4 linked regions of the Homo sapiens genome follow. The protein of the gene in region 3 interacts with the protein of the main gene of each other region in a pairwise test. Each region holds a gene or a part of one and is shown on either strand. Other genes may lie near its edges. The genes, in order: CCDC136, DSCAM, ZBTB47 and NCKIPSD.

Region 1 (5,371 bases), on a different chromosome or scaffold from region 3:
AGAACACCAAAGGTGATAGATTTTGATAACTGAGAAGTGTACTTTTCCACTCAAGAAAAAGATGACATTTAGAGTCAGTCCAAAGGAATCCAAACAAACACCAAACTGATATTATACATCTTACTGGGAATGAGTCGAATGATCTGATGACAGACTTCTGGTCATCCCAGCTCTGCCCTGAGTGCTCATAGTGCTTCAACTGGGCACTGTGAATATCAGTGTGATAAAGGATAATGGCATCTAGGTGAGGTCCTCAGGCCGTATCTAAAAGCCACCTCTTAATGGAGCCTGTGAGTGGTCACAGCTGGTGAAAGGCAGGGCTTTTGCCTTATCCTTACCCCTGGCCAAACACGCCTTCCCAACTCTGACCCTTCGGCGGTGCCCACTCTCTCTGCCATGCTGTTGTGCTCAGGAGAACTGTCTCCCTACCTCTTGCTATGGTTACCTTGTTTCGATTACATTTGGAGGACTTAGCCAATTTGGAATCATCGGGATTCTCCAACACTTCCTGGAAATGAGACTCTTTGAAACGTCGCAGCTCTTCGTGGATCTCTAATTGTTCTTTTAATACACAGTCTTGGTTCTGTATCAGCTTCTTCTGTTCCTCCTGCATGCCTTGGTAGAGCAGCTGCAGCTCACACAGGTCTTCTAACTTGGTGAGTAGCTCCTGACTCTGAGGCGGAGTAGAAGGAAGGAGGCAAGGGATGGTGGTGGTCACACAGGAAGTCTGATGCCTCCTTGGTGCCTCATCCCCGTTGTGAACAATTCCCTGAAGAATCTCAGGGTTGACTTCACAGAGCCCATCTGGGGACGGGGGAGCCCTTCTATGGAGACCTGCTAAAAGTGGCAGTGGTCTCTTGTGTTGGGATATATTTTGTAGTTTACAAAGTGGCTTCAGGTGCATTTTCTCCAGATGGACTAAATACCTAAATATAAACTGCTGCACAGATTCCTGAGTATAAAAGGTATTTTAAGATTTAAAGCCCTTATAAGAAAAACTCTAATTGGCTCTATGGAGCTTTTTGGTTTGGGGAGAGTGGTGAGAAAGTAAGGAGTGGTTGGTAAGAGAAAAAGTTCAATCCCCACCCTTTTATTTTTCCCTAGTCACACAGGGAAGCTTCTCAGAGCAGCTTCCCCGCAGTTAGCAGCTGCCTGTGGCAGAGTTACCTTGAGTAAGAGGCCACTCTTTGGCAGTGGCAGTGTGAGCCTGTGCAGCTCTTCCTGCAGCTGGCCCTGCTCCTCCTGCATCCTCCTCTGATCCTCCAGGAGCTCACACTGCTCCATCTGCAGCTGCCCCATCTCCTTCTGGCTGGCCTTGTACTTTTCCTGCAATTCTGTCAGTCTGGACAGCAGTGTGTCACACTGTGGGTGGGGGCGGGTGTGGAGGGGGTGGTTACTCTGTAAGGTAAGCTTCTTGGGTGGCTAACAGAGCACTTCTGCGCTCTCCTGCCTCTTGTGATCCTCTCCCTGTGCAGTCACCTTGGACTGGTCACCCCAAGCCACAATGCATTCTGGCTGTTTAGATACCGATTGGGGATCCCCTGCAGGCTGCTCCTTCAGAGCAGGTTGCTCTAGACTGGTGGCTGGCCTTGCTCTAAACTTCCACCATTCCTTTCTGGGGGCAGTTTGATGGGGAATGCTATCGATGCCCCTTTCTCATTTCCCCCTTCCTCTTCTCCGGCCCTTTCCTTTATACACCATATTCCCACCCTGTTGGGAACTCTTAGCTCCTGTTATTCTCATTAACCCCAGTTGTTTTTTAATGCAACTACACTCCTTACAAATAAGGACTTAATTTCACCCTAATTTTTCCCATTTTTGCTTTCCTAATTCTCTCTTTAAATCTTTAGAAAGTATGCGCTATTGGTAAATTTGGGTTGAGAAGACTAAATCATCCCATTTCCAAAAACCCAGATCTTCTAATATCAGACAGATCTCAATGCTGTTTTACGGCTAGAGAAAAAGCAGGTGCTGTCTGCCAGCATGCTTCTCCTTTCCCATCATTTTTCCCATTAGGGGAAGAGGTGACGAGCAAGTCACAGATCACCTGGGCTCCTAAATTGAGTAGCAGTGGAAAAAGGAGGAAACGTGAGCCTGGATATAGAAAGGCAAAGAGACTGCTGAGGTGGCCCAAATAACCTTCCCAGTCCTCCGTCTCCTGAAGGCCTTTCCCCAGGGACAGGAACTACTGAGTTTTCTGGCAGAATGTGACCAACTCCACCATCGTTAGAGACTCTTGGGCCTCTTCTCCAACATGCTTCAACACCTTTCCATTTCCCATCAGTAATCAGGAGCTGAAAGTGCTCAACAGGATAAATGATAACGGCTTGCATTTTATACACTATGGAAAAGAAAAAAAATGAATAAGGCCTTATTTATCACTACCAGGATTTACTGCTAAAAGGAAGTGAGTTAAGAGTAGTATTCTCTTCCATTTAAAGAGGGCACAATTCAACCTTCCACAATTTAATTACTGGCAGGGCATGGCGGCTCATGCCTGTAATCCCAGCACCTTGGGAGGCCGAGGCAGGTGGATCACCTGAGGTCAGGAGTTCGAGACCAGCCTGACCAACATGGCGAAACCCGGTCTCAACTAAAAATACAAAAATTAGCCAGGCACAATGGCATGTGCCTGTAGTCCCAGCTACTTGGGAGGCTGAGATAGGAGAATTGCTTGAACCCAGGAGGCGGAGGCTGCAGTGAGCTGAGATCGTGTCACTGCACACTCCAGCCTGGGCGACAGAGTGAGACTCCATTTCATAAAAAAAGAATTTAACTACTTCAAAGTCACAGAATAAATCCTAGAAGAGCCTAGGTCCTTCTCTTGCCCAATCAGCACTCTGGGCACAAGACCGTACCCCTTTATAAGACCATTTGCAATCTGACCCAGAAAACTGGCCCCTTTCTCTAGTTCCAACAATAATATTTGTGTAATGGGCCCATGTATATGTTCCCCTCCAAGAATGACTAGATATCACTACAGTTCTAATACCATTGTATAAATGTCTACATACATGGAATCATGTGTAAAACTTTCAGGGGTTCAGACTGGGATCCAAAGGTATTGATCCTACTAAGCTGTGGCTCTGGCTCAAAGTCAAGGTCAGGGCAAACAATTTTGAAGTTAGCAGCATGTGGCCCTGCCTCTGCTTCCTGCCTAGGAAGGCCATCAAGCCCTTGGGTTGGGTGCCTTCACTTTTTGCCTCTGTACCTCTTCTCTCTGGAGCAAGTGCCCAGGAGCTGTCACCTCTCTGAACGACAATTACCTTATTAGCACACTTTCCTTTGTCCTCCGGAATGGGGTGGGAGGCCTTGAGCTCTTTCAGCTCCAGCTGGCAGAGCAGGAGGTCCTGCTCCAGCTGGTCATACATGTGCTTCTGCCGCTCCAGCTCGTCCTTGCTGGCCTGGTACAGCTGCTTCATCTCCTGAAGCTGAGCGTGCGTCTCTGTGTCCTGGGCAGGGGAGGCAGGCCTGGCCATCATCCCAGGCACTCCTGCTGCTGGACTCTCTCCTCCCAGGCGGGGACTAAGGGGACCCATCTTCCCTTGTCCTTCTCAGCCCCAATTTCATCCCAGCCAGGGATAGATACCCAAGATGGACCCGTCCCTGACAGGCTTGAAACACAGACCTTCCCAGTGCAGCCTTTCCAGTTAAATAAATAAATAAATAAATATAAAAATAATTTAAAAAGAAACACAGACCTTCTGGGGCTTCCTTTTTTGGGAGGTGGGGAGGCAAAGGGACTTCCTTTTTATATGCTGCTTTTCTGATTTAAAATCAAAGGAAGCTGAGAGCCTTGTGACTCCCCGAGGTCACCTTTCTCCTAAGCACCTCTTTGGCCCCCTCACTGCCAGCTCCTCCACACTCCTACCATTCCCTCTCGTCCTCTGTGCTCTCACCCTCACACAAGATGATGCCTGGCTACATCCTCCCTCACCAGGAGCTTCTTTTACCTTCTCATTGCTCTCTTTGAAGGAGGCCACCGTATCCCTGAGGTGCTGCAGCTCTGCCTCATGGCACTGCAGCTCCTCCTGCAGCTGCTGCTGCCGTTCCAGCAGCTTTTCCTTCTCACATGTGACGTTCTGGTGCTGGAGGTGCAGCTTCTGCAGCCGGCACAGTAACTCCTATGGTAGAGGGGGCTTTGGGCAGTGCCTTTGGGCTCCTTAACCCACTCACTCTTCTGTGTGAGTCACTTGAAGACACCAACAGTCTAAGATTTGCTTCTTCCTGCCCTTCACTTCCTAATGTCCTCATATCTAATGTAGTACTCGAGCAGGGCTGGAGTTCTTTACCTGTGGTGCTGCCTATGTGGTTGCTGGAATTATTTTTAACTCACTACTCTTATCCACCTTCCCCAAAACCTCAGAAGGATGCCCTTAGCACCTAAGTTGTCCCCTCACCTCTGGTTGCTGTTACCTTCTCACTCTGGTTTTCTACAAGTGTGGATTTCATGACTTTGAGCTGCCGGAGCTCAGTCTGAAGTTGCAGCTGCATCTTCAAGAGCTCGTTCTGCTCATCCTGGCTAGTATCATATTTTTTCTGCAGGGTACAGAGTCTGGACTTCAGCTCCTCATTCTGTGGTAGGGAGGATGTGAGTAGAACAGTTACTCTCAAGAAACAGCAGGTCTTTCTACGGATCAGTTGGGTTCCTTTTCAGATGCAGACATCTTGAGGAGCTCCCACAGGTCTAGGGTTTGGTTTCTTCTGTGAGATGGACACTCAGTAATGACCACCATTTCTAGAATGCAGTGCTATATGACTTCTACAGTTGGTTTCCAGCAGACTGTGCCCAGTTGCAGGGCAAGAGTCAGCAGAGCACAGCCATACTCACTGTGCCCACCCCGGTTGAAGCAGCCCCTCCATGAGGCCCTTCTGCCCCCACCCCAGATGCCTCCCCGGGCAGTGTTTACCTGGGTGACACTGTGGGAGGTCTGAAACCGAAGCACCTCATTCTGAGCACACTTGAGCTCCCTCTGCAGCCGCCTCTGCTCCTCCTCACTGACCTGGCGATGATGCTGTAGCTCTTCCAACTCACAACACAATTCCTGACACTATGTGGGAAATGGAACAGGGAGGCTTGTTTACTACAGATACCACATATGCTCCAAGAACAAGCTTGGGGAAAGCATGGCGCTCTTTGACTGGAAGATTTACATCAGGCAAGTGAGACCCCAGAGTACTATCTCCCTCCACAGTGGATGCCTATGGAGATGTTTCTACCACAGGCTGGGAGAAGGTGAAAGAAAGACAAGAAATGTGCCTGCCTTCCCCACCCTCTGTGCCCTACCTTGTTCTTCATGCCATGCATCTGCTCTTCAGCATCCCGTAGCTGCTGCCGTAACAACTGCATTTCAGGATCAGGCTCTAAGAA
Region 2 (6,134 bases), on a different chromosome or scaffold from region 3:
CCTGTCTAGCAACCATACTTTTATTAAGAAATAACTGTACTTCTGATACATCAATAAGAAAAATATTGTTGTCTACTGTTAAAATGCAGATGTATTGTGGGCTTATTTTAATAGCCCCAAATATTAAACTACATAATCTTTTACAAATGAAAAAAAAAAGTTATCATGTCAGGCATTTTGATGCTTGAGGCCTAGCAATAATCAGTTTAGGTATTAGAATTCATCAATCTTTTATCACACACATTCAGAAATTTTTCAAAGTTGAGGTATAACAAAATATGACAGTTGTTGACAAAAATATTCTCAATTTTTTAAAGTTTAATTCAGATAGGTAGAAACCATTTACTCTTATATTTTTGAAATATGGTCTTACAAACAGGCATAGTTCCAAACTGGATTCTTATTTTATTTCAACATGTCTATATATTTTATGATCCTTTCCCCAGTATGTAATGAACACCATACCTTAGAAAACTGTTTAAAGCTGATTTCCCCTCCCCCCTTCAAAGATCCTAAAGCTTTACAGCAGGCTTTTAATGTTTTCATCCTTGATCATATAAAGAGAGGGGCATTTTTATACAAGACAGTTCCATAGCCTTCTGCTAGATTGGATCAGAATACGTAATACAGCAATGTAAAATATTCATTTGTGTTTGCTGTTTATGTCTAATATTGTGGAATCTACCTATATTTATTACAATAATGGTGATTATCAGTTGATTTTAAAAGTCTTGAAAATAATACTTGCAGAACTCACTATATGAGTACCTACATAATTTTTGCATATATTTTTCATATTGCAGAATATTTGAGGTTTCATATAATTGTATTACCATATATAATTATTTCTATGATTGTTTATTTTAGTTATAAAATGCTGATTCAGAAAAAAAGTCACACACACATATAGCATCTCTGTATCAGAGGCTAATAGTCTGTATCAGTATCATAAATTCTTCCATACCATTTTGTCATACAAAATGCTAAAACTGTAAATAAATACTGGCTGACTGACAACCAGCACAGCCTCTTTCATCATCCTGAAACACACACTTCCCAATGGGGTGCAAATTTTGTTTCTTCTTATAACCCAGGCCTTTCCAAGGAGTTCAGAAAGGTACTCCCTGACAGGCGAAACAGGGTGTCAAGGCTCTGTGTCTTTGGAACACATGTGTAGGCATCTCTACATTTCTTAGGAGGTCGCATTAGCAGAAGAGCAGAAAGGGCTGACTTCCCCGACACATCTCCGCATGTTCCCTAAGCACATCTGTCCCTGAAGGGAAATTCCCAGGAGGACACAGGACAGGTATGGTGCCCTCTGGGAAAGATGGGTGTCTTGTCAGAACTTGTTGCAATTCTTTCCTGCTAGGAAATCTCAAAATGAAAGTTTCAAACACTTTGCTTTAGGTTATACTGGAGAGCAAAGTATCATTTTCATGTTCATTTTGATAGTACCTTCTTTCAACTCTACCTTTTCTTAGTCACCGTTTTTTTAAAAAATTGACAATGCTCATGCATTTCTTCTGGCCTGTTGGTATGCTGATTCTTTAGGCACTGTCTAGGTAGGCAAAGAAAATGCACTGCCTTGCAGCCAACACACAGAGCTTCCCTGTGTGTCTTCCAGGAAAATCTTAGAGCCTCCCCTTTGCTTCTCGTATTTTCTCACAAGGGCCAGATTTCCTCTCTTCTCTTCTTTTACCTTCTCTTCTTCTCCTCTCTCTCTCTCTCTCTCTCTCTCTCTCTGTCTCTGTGTCTGTCTCGCTCTCTCTCCCTCCTCTCTTTCTCTCTCTCTCTCTCCTCTCTTCTGGCTAGGGGATTCTGCTTAATGGTTTAATTTCAACTGTCAGTAGGTTATACATTTTATGCAGATGTGTGTTCCAAAATTTGAAATGGGAATTTAAGCCGTAGCTACTCCCAGGCGATGTCAAATGATGACAATTTCCTCTGGTTCCCACAAGAGAGGAAGCCATTCATACATGTAAGTTCATATTTATGCGGTGACAGGCAGCCTAAGGTGCAGTCACACTTACTAATTGGGTCTGACTCAGTCAAGAGCAATAGCTTTCTAAATACCCAGGAAGAAATCATTTCAAAATATAATATTGGCTGGGCATGAGGAAATGTATGCTATTTACAATATTCACTGATTTCATTTTTACAACTATACAGGTGTTTTTTTTTTTTTAATTTGTCAACATTTCAGATGATGTAATGCTTATCAGTGCATATTTTTACATAAACGACTGTGAGGAGCATGAAGCAGCACGGGGTGCATAGAAGGACAGAACATTCTTAAAGCCCTCCTTGGTGCTGGAGATACATTGTACTAGCATGAAATTACGTGTTTGAAAAATCTCAAAAAGCATTGAATCTGAAGGGAGATGTTCCTCATTGACCCCTCCACTTGCGTGCACTTGGAATGTCACATCCCTTTCCAGGTTGTAATATTCAAAGTGGCAATCTTCCTGTCTCTCCTTCTGTCACCAAACCTGGTTTATTCTGAATGAGGCAGCTCTCTAGTACTGGAGTTAGGCTCTGAGCTGTCACTTGGCTAGGTAAGCGCCTTCCAATGATTACAGAGCAATTTCTCCCGGGCCTCTCCATTGCCACCTCTTCTCCCCCAAAAAATAAATATGATATTTAAAAAATAAATAAAAGCACGAAATTTTAAACACAGATGAAGCGGAAAAAGAAAGAAGACTTTACCCATGCATCCAATGCCACCCCCCACCCCCCCGCCCCCCCGGTCAATGATAAGGAAACGAAATTCATCACAAACCGAAAGGCTCACCATTCGCGAAGCTCTGGAACAAGGAGAGAGCCAGTATCCACATGCCCCTGCCGCTCCCCGGCCTCCCGCGAGCGACGCGCCGGCCTCGCCCCCCGCGCTCCGCCCGGCCCGGCTCCGCTCGCCGCTCGGCACCTGCCCGGGGGCCGCCGCCCGCCCGCCGCCCGCCGCCGCCGCCGCCGCTGCCTAGCCGCCCGGGCACGCGGCGCGGCCGGGCTCCGGAGCGAGGGCTGCGCTCGCCGCGCGCTGCGCTCCTGCACACCTGCTCCCGGGCGCCGCGCCCCACGCTGCGGCCGGAGCCCAGGTGCGCCGTCAGCTCAGTGGGCCCCCGGCAGGTCGGCAGGTGGAGAGAGCCGCAGACGCGGGCGTGAGCTCATCCCGGGCACTCGGCGCCCAGAATGCGCAGCCAGCGGCCTCCCGTGCGCCAGCCCTCACCCTCCGCATCCAGGCAGCAGGCGGGCGGGCAGGCTCATCTTTGCCGTGCTCCGGCCTCAGTCACATGGATCCCTCTGCCAACCTTCCCTGCCTGCGAGCCGGGCGAGTGAAGCCGAGCGCGGAGGCGAGCAGGGACCCCTCCCCTGCCTCTGGCCGCTGGGGCGCTCTGCAGTCTTAAAGCAGCAGCAGAGACGTGCAGCCGAACTGAGGCAGGACCGGGGAGAGCGCAGCCACCGCACAGTCACGCACAGTCATCAGGAGGAATTTCTTAGAGGCTTAAATAATCATTTCAACAGCTGCTTATTTTTAGTTATTTTCCTGCCGGTTGCTAATAAGGGATGGCCGGGGTGACTATTGCGGAAGGTGGCCAGCCACGGAGAGGTGAACATGAAATGCTCGTAGTTTTAATAAAATGTGCAGCTGGATTCCGATTCCGTATTTACTCTCAGAAAAGTCCAGTTCATTTGCTTAGAGGGAAATGCTCCTTCCAAATCCTTGCTGCTACTGTAAAGATCTCTATGATTTCACGGGCTAATTTTTAATTATCTTGAATACATGGTAGAATGCAAACACAAGCACTTCTAATTTTGCTCTCTGAATGGCGCATAAAAAAGCTGATTGAAATTGCTGATAATTTGAGTAATCCCAAACATATAGCCCCTTTCACGTTTCTGTGAAAAGTCAATATGTTAACATTTCCTGAATGTTCTGTATGATTCTTGAAGTCATGATAATATTTAAATTAAAGCTCTCACAAGGGCGTACATCTATCCATCACTTTGCAATATAATGACCGACAGGGCTGGAATGCACCCCAGTGTAGAAGCCAGGATGGAATGCTCACAGTCAGGACAATCAGGACTGAAAAAAAGCATTCGGTGGGGGTCAAGGGAGACATTTTCAAGGGAAATTGAGTAGGCTTTTTCCTAGGCACTAGGTATCCTAACTGGGCTCCATGTCCCCCTCCAAATACAGAAGAATGATGCACATCTCAGACAGCTCACAAAACACAGGAGAAGCAAATGGTGAGGCAGAAACAAAATGGTGCTTTACCAGGGTTGGGCACAAGATGGCCAGGCCCTGTGTACCAGGAAGGGTCAGCTGAGCCGGTGATGCTGCCTGGCTCACCACGGCTCTGCAGCTGCAGGTGATCACGTGCTGCCGCCCACTCAGGCTGCGCAGGCCCAGCCCCCAGTACCACGCACCAGAACCAGCATCCTCTGGCTTTGCAAATGCTGGGTGCTCAGTCCCTGGTCCTTCCCAAATGCAACCCAGGAAGGCAGGGGATGGGCCTGATTCTGTCCCTGCATCTGGCTGGTTGACCTATTCATTAATTCTTACTTGCACACTAGCCACCTGCAAGGGTGCCCAGGCACTGGGGTCAGGGAAACCCAGGGTCGAATTGCAGCTCCTCCACTACCCCGATGTGGGGCTTCTGCATGTGACTCGAGCCTCAATTTCCTCATATGCAGACTGGAAATTATCACAGTTCTTAACTCACAGAGGTGTGAAGATCTTTCCATCCGTTGACAGCACATGGTCACTGTAGTTAGCGATGGCTGTGGTTAACTGTTACTGAGTTTGGGAGCAGGGCTGGAAACATGATTTGTGGGGTCCACTATAAAATGAAAATGGAGAGCTCCTTTCTCAAAATGAAAAAGAAGCACCATAACAAGTGCTAAAACAGAACACTTCCTCCTTTCTTCCTGCCTCTCTCAACCAGTCATGGTGTTTTCTGCTACATGCTGCTCTTCCTTGGGCGTGGGAATGCACCCCTGTACAGACCCCACAGACCTTCCAGGTGACTCAGTGCAGTACAAGAGGCTTCCACTTGCCAGTTGCTTCCCTGCCCTTGGCTGCACCCACATGCTGTGGCCAGCCACAGTTAGGGGGTGGGGAAGCCACTGTCTCTCTCCCACAGCCCACTGTCCCAATGTACAGTGGACAGGAGATCCCTCAGGGATTGCAACCTCCATGCTGGGAAGCTCTGGGTATCTGGATTGGAGGTGGGCACAAGCCTCTGGCCACTTGTGGAATGTGCCCTGGCACTGCCAGCCTGCTGAGGGGATGGTCACTGCGAGGCCTTTCTCTGAACTCCTGCACAGTGCTTGTCCTGCACACATGCCCATACACTCACCAGAGATGGCAGGTGGTGGCAGAACACAGGCTTGCTGTTCCAAAATGATGCAGTTGCCACCCTGTTGGGAAGCAGCAACAATTGCAGGGGCAGAGGCTGCTCAAGAGCTGGGGGAACATGGGGTTGGGAAGTGGACAGCCAAGAACCTCTCCCAAAGGAGAGGTGGCAGGTGGCAGGTAGCAGGATGGTACAGAAGCCAAGGCTCCAAGCCCTCTTCATGCTCCATTGTCCCATTGGATTTAGAAAAGGTAAAACAGAGGTGATATCATTAAACATTTCAAGATGGTGACTACAGAGAATTCAACCCCAAGTGCAGGCCCTTCTTTGCCTGGGACCAGATGGGACCCCGTGTGAGTGCACCTCTCCGTGGTTGTCTATTAATGCATCTGCCACAGGGTGAATGGGTGAAGGACCTTGAATGGGCCTAACACATGCACCAGTGTCTTTTCAAATGTATTTACGTAATAGACTTCAGTAAGAAACATACTTATTTCTCACTAAACTGTGAGTTCCATGAGACCAGACACTCTTTCCTGTTCAGGAAGGTATCCTCATGGCCTGGCCCAAGTACATGCTCGGTAAGTATTTGTGGGCTGGAATGGAGATCTCTAATGCAGGTAGAAGGCGGAGCCTGTCCTCAGATATGCACACATGTGTACACATAAAGCGCCATGGTAATTTAGGAGGGAAAGTGAGTACTGTACTTCATATAGAAGTCTCAGAGGAAATGGCAAGAACGTTGAGCTTTCAAATTCAGTTAAGATGTCAACATGC
Region 3 (5,371 bases):
CAGGGTGTGGCTGACGCGGAAGCACTTCTCCTTGTGGGCCTTGAGCATGTTGGAGAAGCGGAAGCGCTGGCCACACACGTCGCACGGGTACGGCTTCTCGCCCGTGTGCGTGCGCCGGTGCCGCTTCATGTTGGGCCGGCTGGTGAAGCTCTTGCCACAGATCTCGCAGATGTACGGCTTCTCTCCTGGGGGTTGGGGGTGGGCAGCAGGGCGTCAGTGAGGGGTCGCCACACCCCAGTCTGGGGCCAGCCTCCGTCTCCCATGGAGCCATAGTGGGGCCCAGCCCCGGCGCTCTCAGATCCTCCCCGACCCTGGGGCATTTTGTGCCAGCCTCACCCAACCCTGGGAGGCAGGAAGCATGGGTAAACGGAGGCCCAGACTTGAGAAGGGGTGTGGCCAAGATTATTCCAGGTGTCCTGAGCGGGGCTGAGAAGGGGTCCCAGGCCCGGCACCGAGCTCCGTCCCCAGGGGCAGCCGCACCTGTGTGGGTCTTCATGTGCTCATCGAAGTACTGCTTCATGTTGAAGTCCTTGCCGCACCATTGGCACATGAACTGCTTGTGGCCAATGTGGATGCTCATGTGTGACCGCAGCTGGTACTTGTACTGGAAGCGCTCATTGCAGTTCTGGGGGTGGGGTTTGGGGGTGAGGCCCAGGCACAGAGCAGAAGAGCAGCCTTTGTGGAGGGAACAGCTCCCCTGTGGCCACAGGGCCAAGGAGGGACACACTCAGGGGCTCCTGGGCAAGGAGATGGGGACATGAGGGCAAGCCGAGGTGCATCTGGGTGGGCAGTACATGGGCACAAGAGGAGAGGCCACAAGCACCCAAGGCTTAGGTGGGGAATGGGGGTCGGAAGTGGGAAAAAGCCAGAGAGTAGAGGGAGCCCCATGCTTAAGGCACGAGGTCCCTCATCCTTCCTCCTGATCAGACGCCCAGCCCCTGCCCCCACCTCCCCACCTGCAGCTCTGTTGTCTCATCTGAGCTCCAGGCCTGGGATGCTCCTGAATCTGCCTCCCCAGAAAGCCTGCTCCTAGGGCTGTAGCCCACACACACTTCCCACCCTGAGTGTGTGGGGCTGGGTTGGGGAAGGAAGGGCAGGATGGGAGTGGGCCAGAGAAGAGTAGGGGCTGGGTGGGAGTGGGAGGCAGGGGCTGCAGACCTCAGAGGGCAGGGCTCTCTCTTTCTGGACACTACATTCCACCCCCTAGCCCTTTGTTTTTCAGCAGCTGCGCTCCCTGATTCCTGCCCCTCCCAGGTGACCCCTCGGGCAGGCCAGGCAGGAGATGGAAGCTCACCTCACATCTGAACGGCTTCTCCCCTGAGTGCTGCAGTGAGTGCACCTTGAGGGACATGCTGCGCTTGAAGGACTTTCCGCAGGTCTCGCAGGTGAAGGGCATGTCCTTGGTGTGGGCTACGAGGTGGGCACCAGGGCCATCATGTTTTACGGGCCTGCCCAAGCACCCCGACGTTGGGCCCAGACCCTGCCTCCTGGGGCAGCCCTGTGCCACCACCCTTCTCTGGGGCTGGCCTTATACTCTGTCCCAGGACCTGTGCTGATTCCCAGGAGAGGCCCCCTGCCTCCATGGCTGGGTCTCCTATCTGCTCTGAAGGTCTGCCTCAGACATGCTGGGGCTCTGTGGTTCTTTAGCCTCTGGTCAAGGGAAGTGGCCAAGGCTGCCTTGCCCCCAAAGCTTCAGGGAAGGATGGAAGGACCCTGGGTGGACCTGGCTTCAGCTCAAATCCCGGCCCGACCACTGGCTTCCCACTCAGTCTCTCTGGACCTCCGCTTCCTCTCCTATAAAAAGGGACTCATAGTGGTCCTGAGCTTCAGGGGTGGTGGGCTTTAGAGGGGACATATGCAGAAAGGCCCTGGTCTCAGGCCCTAGCCAGCAGTCTGGAGGAAGTTAGCTGCACTCCTCCCAGCACCCACGGATGGGTGAGGACTAACAAACTCTTCAAGGATCTGGTAGGTGGCCACTGGAGACAGAAGGCTCACCTTCAAGCTCACAGACACCAGTCCTGGTTTACCCAGCATGCTCCTGGCTGAGACCTAGGCCGCAGGGTCCCAGCTTCCAGTCAGTTCATGCTGGAGGGCCCCCAGCACTGTCTCATGGAGAAAGGGATTAGGACCTGGCCAGGGGCTCACTGTCTGCCTTGGCTACCCCTCCCCCTCAAGGCCCAGACTTGGAGCGGGCAAGGAAGGCAGGGCTGTAGGGACATGAGGCTCTGCCAGGCCCACATACAGCAGGTGGGCAGCCTTGCCTGGGGCAGTGGCGTGGCCAAAACACACAATTGGGGGACCTCCTTACTGTGTCCAGGCATGAACCCTGAGGGGAGGCTGCATTCAGAGAGGCCTGAAGCCCTATGAGGACCAGAAGGTAAGAAAGAATCAGAGGCACAGCTGTCATCAAACTGACACAGGGCCTGTACCAGCCCATACAGCACTTTGTATAATTAGGAAAAGGTATTCTTTTCCCTGGGTGGACACGAGCCCGTGCCAGGATGCACAGCCTGGTTAGCAGTGTGCCAGCTTGATTCCGGTTCCCACCTGCCATCTTGTCCAGGCACCCTTGTGCAATGTGCAGCCTGCCCAACTGTACATGCCAGCCCTGGCCCCAGAGCCTGTCCAGGCTACACCTGCCACTGGAACCAACCTCCCCAGGCCTCCTAGCTGAGAGGGGCCTCCTCACCCCTTCACATTGCCCTTGGATGTGAAGTCTTTCCCATCCACCAGCCAGAAGCTGGTCCATCTCTATCCTCTGGCTCCATCCCCCAGTGGCCCAGACTTACCAACCATGTGCTTACGCACGTGGGCCATGGTGTAGAACTTCTTCTCACAGATCTCGCATGAGAACTTCTTCTCTGCGTAGCCGTGCACAATCTTGTTATGCTCATGGAGGGACCAAAGCTTCTTGAAAGCTTTGCCACATGTCACACACTGCAGAATAAGAGGACTTGAGGCCCTGGGTCCTGAGTCCCCAGGGTCTTGGACTTGGGCAAGCTACTGCCCCCGTCTGGCCTCAGTTTTCCCACTTGAAATATGCTGGAGAGCCCTTGATGCCAACAGCCAGCCAGCTCTGATGTTTCTAAGGTTGGGGATGAAAACTCCTTAAACACCCCCAAACACACAGCCTGGTGTCCTCCTTCATCCTTGAGTTAACTAGGGTCAGGGGTCACCTCTTCCAGGAAATTCCCCACTCTGGGCTCATTTCAACAAGGGCTTCCAAAGGCATCACCCTTTGTCTGTCTATAGAGGTAAGGCAGACAACTAGCTGAAGGGCGCCCTCTGGTATGGAGGCTACACGCAGAGATAACAGGTCCCACAGAGTGAGCCATTATCACTGCTGCCTCCTCCTGCTGGGACCTGTGCCATGACACCATGAATATCGCCAAGAGGATGAGTCCCAGAGGCGTTGGCTGAGGAGGACAGCAGGAGGCTCAAGGTCCCATCAGGCACAGAGAGTGGTGGGGGATCTTGGGGACCATATCCCCCCATTTGTTCTCCTGGACCCTTGTCCTGCCCATCTATGCAGGACACCCCACAGGGATGGAGGCTAGGCCAAGGCTTGGGCAGAAATTGGTCAGGGTACTCAGGTTGGATGGGGCAGAAGCTTCTTTTTCCTTCAGGAGGGAGACTCAGGTGCGCAGCAGTTAGAGCATCAAAGGGCAGCCCAGCAGGCGGGCAAGTGGGCACAGGTACACAAGGGTGGGGCAGGATAGCAGGTGACCCCCGGGTAACACTTTCTCCACAGGGCACTGCAATTAGCAATTAGCGCAGGCAATTAGCACCCACCTACCTGCTACCTTTCCCCCTTCTCCTGGGCCAGAAGAGGTGAAAACCACCCGTGGGAGCCTGGCTGGCCCTGTGCCACCCCACCCTGAGAAGTGAGGCTGGCACAAACAGACTCAGGCTGGCTCAAGGCCCAGCAGCCAGCTCAGCTCCCCTGCTTACCCCAGCAGCCTCTGCTCTTCCCAAATTTCTCACCCAATCCCTTTTTCCCAGGCCCATGGGAGCTGGCATCCCCAAAGAGCTGAAAGTGGGGGCTGCCTCCTGCTGGGCTGCCCCCTCCTCCATACAGCACTTTTGTGGGAAGTGGAGGATGGCATCCCTCTGGGCAAACCCCTCCTCCCATCGTGTGCTCACTTGCTGCAGTGCACAACCTGTGAAACTATACACAGTGGCCCTGCTGGCCTTCCTACAGCCCCCGTGTTTGTTAAAACCCCGTCTGACTCATCCCACCCAGAGTGGCCTGTCTTCTGGCCTTGTCTGCTCAGACAACTCTCCACTCTCATCCTCCCAAGTCCATGTGTCCCCTTTGTCCCTCTGGCCAAGGGTACTGTTTGTTCCAATCCTCTGCACATCTCTTCATGCGCCCAACTCTATCCACCTCTCCCAGGAAGCTCGGCTTGATGTTACCCCTGAGCTCTAACCACCCTGAGAACTGGGCCTGGGCCAGCCTGTCTGGGGGCTAAGTCTGGTCTCCGCAGACCACCTAGGTAATGCAGTCAGCAAGACACTAGGTGCCCAGAGCCCAGTTATGGCCTAGCCCCACCTGGACAGCCTCTGCCCTGCCCCCAGCCACGTGAGGCCCACCTGGATGTTGCGCTCGCAGTCTGTCTGCCTGTGCAGCAGCAGCTCGCTCTCCAGCAGGAAGCGCTTGCCGCACTGGTCGCAGATCTGCATGCGGCTGTGGGTCACATTCATGTGTTTCTCCAGGTACCAGCGGTTGTTGAAAACTCGTGGGCACTTCTGGCATGGATGGTGCTGCTTCTCCTCCAGCTTCACCTTGGCCCCCAGCCCATCAGTGGCTGGCGGCCCTCGGGCCGATGCAGAGGCCACTCCAGGGGGTGGCTTTGGCCTCTTCCCACCCCGCCGCCCAGCTTCTTCAGGTTCAGGGGTACCCCGGCGCCGGGCGTTCTCCCGGGACCGTGTGGCCATGTGACTGTGGGGAGGGGGGTCTGCCCGGCTGCTTCGGCTTCCCCGTGGCCCCTGCTTGCCCCCAGCCTCCCCCTCCTCCCCCTCCTCCTCCTCAGAGCTCTCTTGATCCTGCTCACTAGGCCCTTCCTCCTCTTCCTCCTCCTCTTCCTCTTCCTGCTCACTGTGCCCGTCCTCCTCCTCTTCTTCCTCTTCTCCCTGACTGCCACCCTCTTCCTCCTCCTCCTCCTCCCGTCCACTGCCACCACCTTCCTCTTCCTCTTCTTCCTCCTCCTCCTCCTCGTCGTCCTCCTCCTCCTCGTCCGAGTGTCTCTGCAGCCCGTCCTCCCGGCCCAGAACCACGGTGGCTGGGCTTGGCCCGGCACCTGGCTTCCCCTCTGGCCCCGTGGACACGTGCAGTGTCTGGTTGTTGAGGTTCACCTCCACGATGATCTGG
Region 4 (5,371 bases), 6.0 Mb from region 3:
AGGAGGCAGGGGTCATAGCGGTCAGGGTGGACCTTGTGGGGATCCCAGAGTCACCCCAGGGGGTTACGGGAGTCATTGCAGGGGTCATGGAGTCACAGGGCATGGAAGTGGTACCCGCGCAGATTCCCGGGCCCTCACCCCCTCTGTTCAGGAGCAACAACAGCTTCTCGGAGAAGATCTTGACATTGGCGTGTTTGCTCAGGGCAGCCATGATGACATTCTGGTCAGCAGCTAAGGAAGGACATGGGTATAGACAGGGTGCTGAGCCTGAGAGCCACCATGTGCTCAGCCACCGCCCAGCCAGGCCCCACCCCACCTGGCAGGTGCAGGTTGAGAGCCAGAAGCAGGTTCACGCAGAGGTCCGGCAGCTGCTCTGTGGTGTCCAAGGGCAGCCCATCCTCGACGATGTTCAGTAGGAACTGGGCGAAAGGCGTGCCCAGGTGCTCTGGGAGAGGGGCGCACAGAAGTCTGCAGCCCCATTCCCCTCCGACCCCCGCACCACCCACCCTTCCTGGCTTTCTGTGAGCCTTGGGGATAGCCTCTCCCTGCTAGGCTGTGTAGTCAGCAGGTCCCAGGCCCTCGGGCAATGGGCCCTGGCTTAGGACCTGTGATCAGCTGGTCGGTTACTGCATTCTTACCATAGTGTGCATAGGGCACTGCCTCTCCCATGGAGAAGACCATGGCCAGGATGAGGGCAGAGTAACAGAGTTTCTGGTGGTCTGGGGGGGACAAGGCAGGCAGTCAGAGTCCCCAAAGATGGCAGGAAACCCCAGCAGATGGCAGGAACACCCTCCAGATAGCAGGAAGTTCCCTCCTACCCCGCCCTCCAGCCTCACCCTGCGTGTCTGTCTGCATGTCCCTCGCCAGCTCTACAGGCAGCACGGATGACACAAGCGTGGAGATGATGGCTGCATCCAGGCTGCACATGGCGCCAAAGCACTTGAGGAGCAGCAGCCGCAGTGATGCTCGGTGTTCCTGGCAGGGAACCCTGCGTGCTCAGTGCCTGGAACTCCCCCACTATCTAGGTCTCTCCATTACCCCTCCCCTCCATCCTGCACATACCATTTGGTAATAGGCCACCAAGGCCAGGACAGACTCGAACTCGTTTCTCTTGCACATTTTCTTGCAAACTTCAGGGTCTGCATCAGTCTACAGAAATGAGGAAGTGAGAGCATCAGCCACCATGAGCGGAGCTGTGCAGCCGCACAAGAGAGGGCTGAGCACATATGTGTAGGGGAGACTCCTAGCACTGTGAGGGATGCTACAGGGTGGGGGCCACTGTTCCCCATGTGGGGTATGTGTGTGGGACCCCACCCTTACCAGAATATGCAGCAGCTCCTCTAGGTAGCAGCGGATGACACCCTCATCCTCATATAGTGCCCAACTGCGCTGCTGGGCGTCGTCCTTCCGGCGAGCCAGGTCTGCAAAGATCACCTCCAGCCTCTGCTGGTCGTGGCAGACCTGCCCTGAGGGCAGGGCCATGCTGAGGTCCTAGAGGGAGAGGGCAAGGCATGACTCAGCACACTCCCTGCCCTCACCATCTCCAGGGAGCCTCCAAGGCCTGGAGAGTCCATCTGTGGACTTTTACTCCATGAACTCAAGTCCCTCCTGGCCCACACTGGACAGGAGGCTCAACTCCAGTCTTGATGACCTCCCAGGACAGGAGTCAACGGGAGACTCATCTGTAGGGGGTTTTCAACAGCTCGCCTCTCATCCCAGACCTGGATAAACACCCCCAACTAGGAGGGCCATGAACTCTGTCACTGCCAGAATGTGACTCTGAGACCTCACTCTCCCATTCCACACAAAATGGCACAGGCCTGTCATCTACCAACTTGCCACATTTTCCTTGAACCCTGCTGACCAGGCACTAGCTGTTGTGCCCAGCACAGCCAAGCCCATTGGCCCACTCCCCAACACCCAAACCAGAAGTGTAACAGGAACCATGGAGCACTAAAGAGGGACCTTTGGTCTGTCTGACCCCCATCATGTATGCTGGGCTCACTGCCCCCATCCTGCTCATGAGTGCCAAGGATCCCACCCATCCCATGATGCCCACACACCTCACTCCCTCTCATCCATGTCAGCACCTAGGACTCCATCCCAGCTCTCCCAGCACCCATGTCTCTTACTGCCAAGGTCAGCAAGGCACTACCCTCACCCACGCCGTGTCCATTCCTTCCCTGCAGCCAGACAGAACTCTTGGCCACCCGCATGTCGTCTTATCTGTCACCTGCCCCAGGTCTCACCTCCTCCTACAGCACCCACTCCCTCACTCCCTGTGTTCCAGTCCTGCAGGCCTTGTTCCACTTCCTCCCACAAGCCAGGCTCAGTCCTGCCTTGTGGCCCTTGTCCAGGCTGCGCATCTGCCTGGAATGCTTGTCCTTCCTTTCTGCTTCAGAAATCAGCTCAACGTCCCCAGTGCCCAGCACAGTAAGAGCTCAGAGCCAGAGCTTGAGAAATACCTGTAATGTACAGGCTGGACAAGTGTGTGACGGTGGGAACAGGGTGGGTAGCAGGGTGGCCCTGCTGTGCCGCCCACCCTCACCTTGCCCTCTACGAGTGAGAGGAGGACCTGCTCCATGACTGGTGAGCTGGCCGGCACCGAGGCCTGGATGTGACCCACTATGATGCCGATGGCCACCCGGCATAATTCGTGGCTCAGGCCAGTGTTTCTCCGCACCAGCTCCATCAGCTCGGCCCCAATGGTCCTGGGCACAGCCGCCTCAGCTGCTGCCTTCTCCTCTGTGGTCCCCAGGCTCAGTGTACCCAGGGCTTCCAGGTCATCAGAGGCTGAGGTTGTACCAGTTGCCACTTCTTCTTCTGCAGGGGGTTCAGGTGCTGATGCCTTGGAGGGAGGGGGCTGGACTTGGGACACGGTGGTGTGGGTGCCTCGGCGGGGCACAGGTGGGGGTGTGGGTGAGCAGCTGGAGCCTGGTTCAGATGGGCTGGAGCTGGTATAGAGCGTGTCCAGGGAGGTGCTGCTGACTGAGGAGCCGCTGGACACAGAGTTACCCCCGGAGGGCATGGTGTTGTGGCCACCTGCGAGCAGTGAGTAGAAGCTGGGCCAGGGCAGCCCCCTGGAAAACCATACCCTTCACAGCCCAGATCCCCTGTCCCCTAACACAGGGCCTAGTTTCTCTGCTAGGCACTGCCTCCTCACAAAGCCCAGAGCCCCTAATTGCCCCAAAATGGGAGTCCTGTCCTCTTCCCCAGCTTAGAGCCTCCATTTCCCTGACACAGGCAGCACAACCATTCCAAGCATAGGGTGCCTCCACCTGAATTCCCCTAACCCTGCCTTCTTACCACTCCCAGAGGCCATCAGGGCCTCGCGGTCTCGGCGCTTCACTGGTGGGGGCGGTGTGGTGGGTGCTGCTCGGCGAGGCTGTGGTGGGATCTGGGAAGATGGAAGTGGGATCTGGAAGATGGAAGTAGGATCTTGGAGGACAGACTGACATCTAGAGCGTCAGCGAGGCTCGGGCCCTGAGCCCTGGCTGTGGGCAGGACTATGGCTCTGGGCCGCATCACTCCTGAGTGGACCCCTTGAGCCTCTGGATGAAGCCTCAAGTTCCACCCACCTCCCTTCTCCACGATGTCCTCCCCACACACCTGGTAGAGGCCTCCATCTGCCCCAAGATGCTCAGAACTGGGTAGGCTGTGCTGCCGCTCGAACCCAGCTCGACACACCCCATTGGGCTGCCTGGCTGCAGCAGCATCCAAGTGGTGGTCACTGGTTGATGAGGTCATAACTGCAACACTGGAGGCTGAAGGGCCTCTGCGTGACAGGGTCTCTTTCCGGTGGTGGATCAGCTTCCTGATGGAAGGACAGGAAGACTATTGGGGGGTTGCATCTCACAGCTCAAAGTCCTCATATGCCCCTGTGGGATGCTGGGACCCCATAGCCCAGGCCCCTCAGACATCCCCATCTCCTCCATGCTCCACCCCAGCCTACAGTACCCCATACTATCCTCAGTCCTGCGCTCTGCACACCCCTGGTGCTCACTGAAGGACCCGACCCCACCTTGCTCACTGGGAGGTGCCATTCCCCCACCACCCTTGCCAACCCTCGCATTTCCCAGGCCCACCTGCCCCATGACACTCATTGAAGAACCCCACCCCACCATGCTCACCGGGAGGTCCCACTTCACTCCCCTCAACACTCACTGGAGGACTCCACGCTGTTCCAGGCTGTACTTGCCACCATCCCGCATGGCTGTGTTGTGTACAGCCTCGATGGCCCGGTCAATGGCCTGGAGGACATCCTGCTCCAGGCCCTGGGGGGGGCAGGGGACAGCAGTTAGACCTGAAGGCCAAACGGAGGTGCTCAGCCCAGGCCCAGCCCGAGATAGAACCCAGGGCAGAGAACCAATATAGCGAAAGCCTGGAATGCTAGACATAGCACAAAAAGTTGAACCAGAATATGGAATGGGGTTCTCAAACTGTATCACTCAGGGAGCTGAGGCACAGGGTGACCCCCATGCTGCCACATTACATATTAGGTCCTGATCAGGATTTTACCCCACAGCAAGGCTCTTGGCTAAGATGTTTCTGAAAATCAGAGGTCTAAAGCAAAAACATAGCCCAGGGGCTCCCAGCTTGCAGCCAGGAGCGCATACCTCGTCTATCCCTGGTCTTGGCTCAGAGCCCAGGTTGAGATGCCAAACAGGAAGTCTCCAGTATCTGGAATCCTTAATACATCACTCTGCATCTTGCTGATCTTTCACAAAACCAAGGTCATACCCCAGAACAGCCCTGTCCTTGTAAGGGCCCTCTGTAAGCCCTGGGAGCTGAGAATGGGTCAAAGGGACTTGCCCTCCCCAACCCTGCTGCTGGCCCTCATCCCCACAAGATGTCTCAGTAAGCTTCCAAACCCACCCTGGGAAGCAGTTCTGTGTTTGTGGCAAAGGATAAACATGAGAGAGGGGCCTAGCCCCTGTTCCAGGCTCTGTACTGCCATCCCCAACATTCCAGGGATCCAGTCTACTCTGCCTATCTGACATGGGGAGTGTAGGGTAGCAGCTATCAAACCAGCTACCCCCAGCCCTCCCCTGGCCCTGGCACACGTAGTCCATCAGGCTACATAGGAGTCCCGGAGCTGAGATGAACTCATTCCACCATGGGTTTGAGAAGCTTCCCTGATGGGCACAGACAGGTGGGCACAGAGGTCAGCAAAGCCCTCCAGGTGGTATGAGGTGTGCCAGAGTGCAGGGAGAGGAGACAGGGGGATAGAAAGACATGAAGACACACACACACACACACACACACACACACACACACACACAGAGAGAGAGAGAAAGAAAGGAATGGGGAAAGAGAGGAGCTCAGAGAGGAACGGAGAGGCAGACAGAGGGAAACAACGCAGAAAGAAACA

The links.
Region 1: the proteins of ZBTB47 (region 3) and CCDC136 interact in a two-hybrid assay, tested with the Homo sapiens proteins (one large-scale study listed by BioGRID).
Region 2: the proteins of ZBTB47 (region 3) and DSCAM interact in a two-hybrid assay, tested with the Homo sapiens proteins (one large-scale study listed by BioGRID and IntAct).
Region 4: the proteins of ZBTB47 (region 3) and NCKIPSD interact in binary tests that used the Homo sapiens proteins (3 or more experiments, as listed by UniProt).

Annotation. Positions count from the first base shown.
Region 1 is NC_000007.14:128,805,441-128,810,811, reverse strand, and holds part of CCDC136 (coiled-coil domain-containing protein 136), read right to left. Parts: coding exon 5,288-5,371; intron 5,052-5,287; coding exon 4,911-5,051; intron 4,576-4,910; coding exon 4,417-4,575; intron 4,125-4,416; coding exon 3,954-4,124; intron 3,453-3,953; coding exon 3,267-3,452; intron 2,277-3,266; exon of another isoform or gene 2,048-2,276; intron 1,363-2,047; coding exon 1,168-1,362; intron 674-1,167; coding exon 446-673; intron 1-445. UniProt on the Homo sapiens protein: May play a role in acrosome formation in spermatogenesis and in fertilization.
Region 2 is NC_000021.9:40,843,828-40,849,961, forward strand, and holds the start of DSCAM (cell adhesion molecule DSCAM isoform CHD2-42 precursor), read right to left. Parts: upstream 3,332-6,134; 5' UTR 2,835-3,331; coding exon 2,792-2,834; intron 1-2,791. UniProt on the Homo sapiens protein: Cell adhesion molecule that plays a role in neuronal self-avoidance. Promotes repulsion between specific neuronal processes of either the same cell or the same subtype of cells.
Region 3 is NC_000003.12:42,659,051-42,664,421, reverse strand, and holds part of ZBTB47 (zinc finger and BTB domain-containing protein 47), read right to left. Parts: coding exon 4,594-5,371; intron 2,938-4,593; coding exon 2,790-2,937; intron 1,411-2,789; coding exon 1,295-1,410; intron 626-1,294; coding exon 481-625; intron 186-480; coding exon 1-185. UniProt on the Homo sapiens protein: May be involved in transcriptional regulation.
Region 4 is NC_000003.12:48,678,739-48,684,109, forward strand, and holds part of NCKIPSD (NCK-interacting protein with SH3 domain), read right to left. Parts: intron 4,275-5,371; coding exon 4,165-4,274; intron 3,815-4,164; coding exon 3,610-3,814; intron 3,419-3,609; coding exon 3,307-3,418; intron 3,043-3,306; coding exon 2,549-3,042; intron 1,492-2,548; coding exon 1,321-1,491; intron 1,150-1,320; coding exon 1,063-1,149; intron 976-1,062; coding exon 837-975; intron 720-836; coding exon 639-719; intron 446-638; coding exon 317-445; intron 232-316; coding exon 139-231; intron 1-138. UniProt on the Homo sapiens protein: Has an important role in stress fiber formation induced by active diaphanous protein homolog 1 (DRF1). Induces microspike formation, in vivo. In vitro, stimulates N-WASP-induced ARP2/3 complex activation in the absence of CDC42.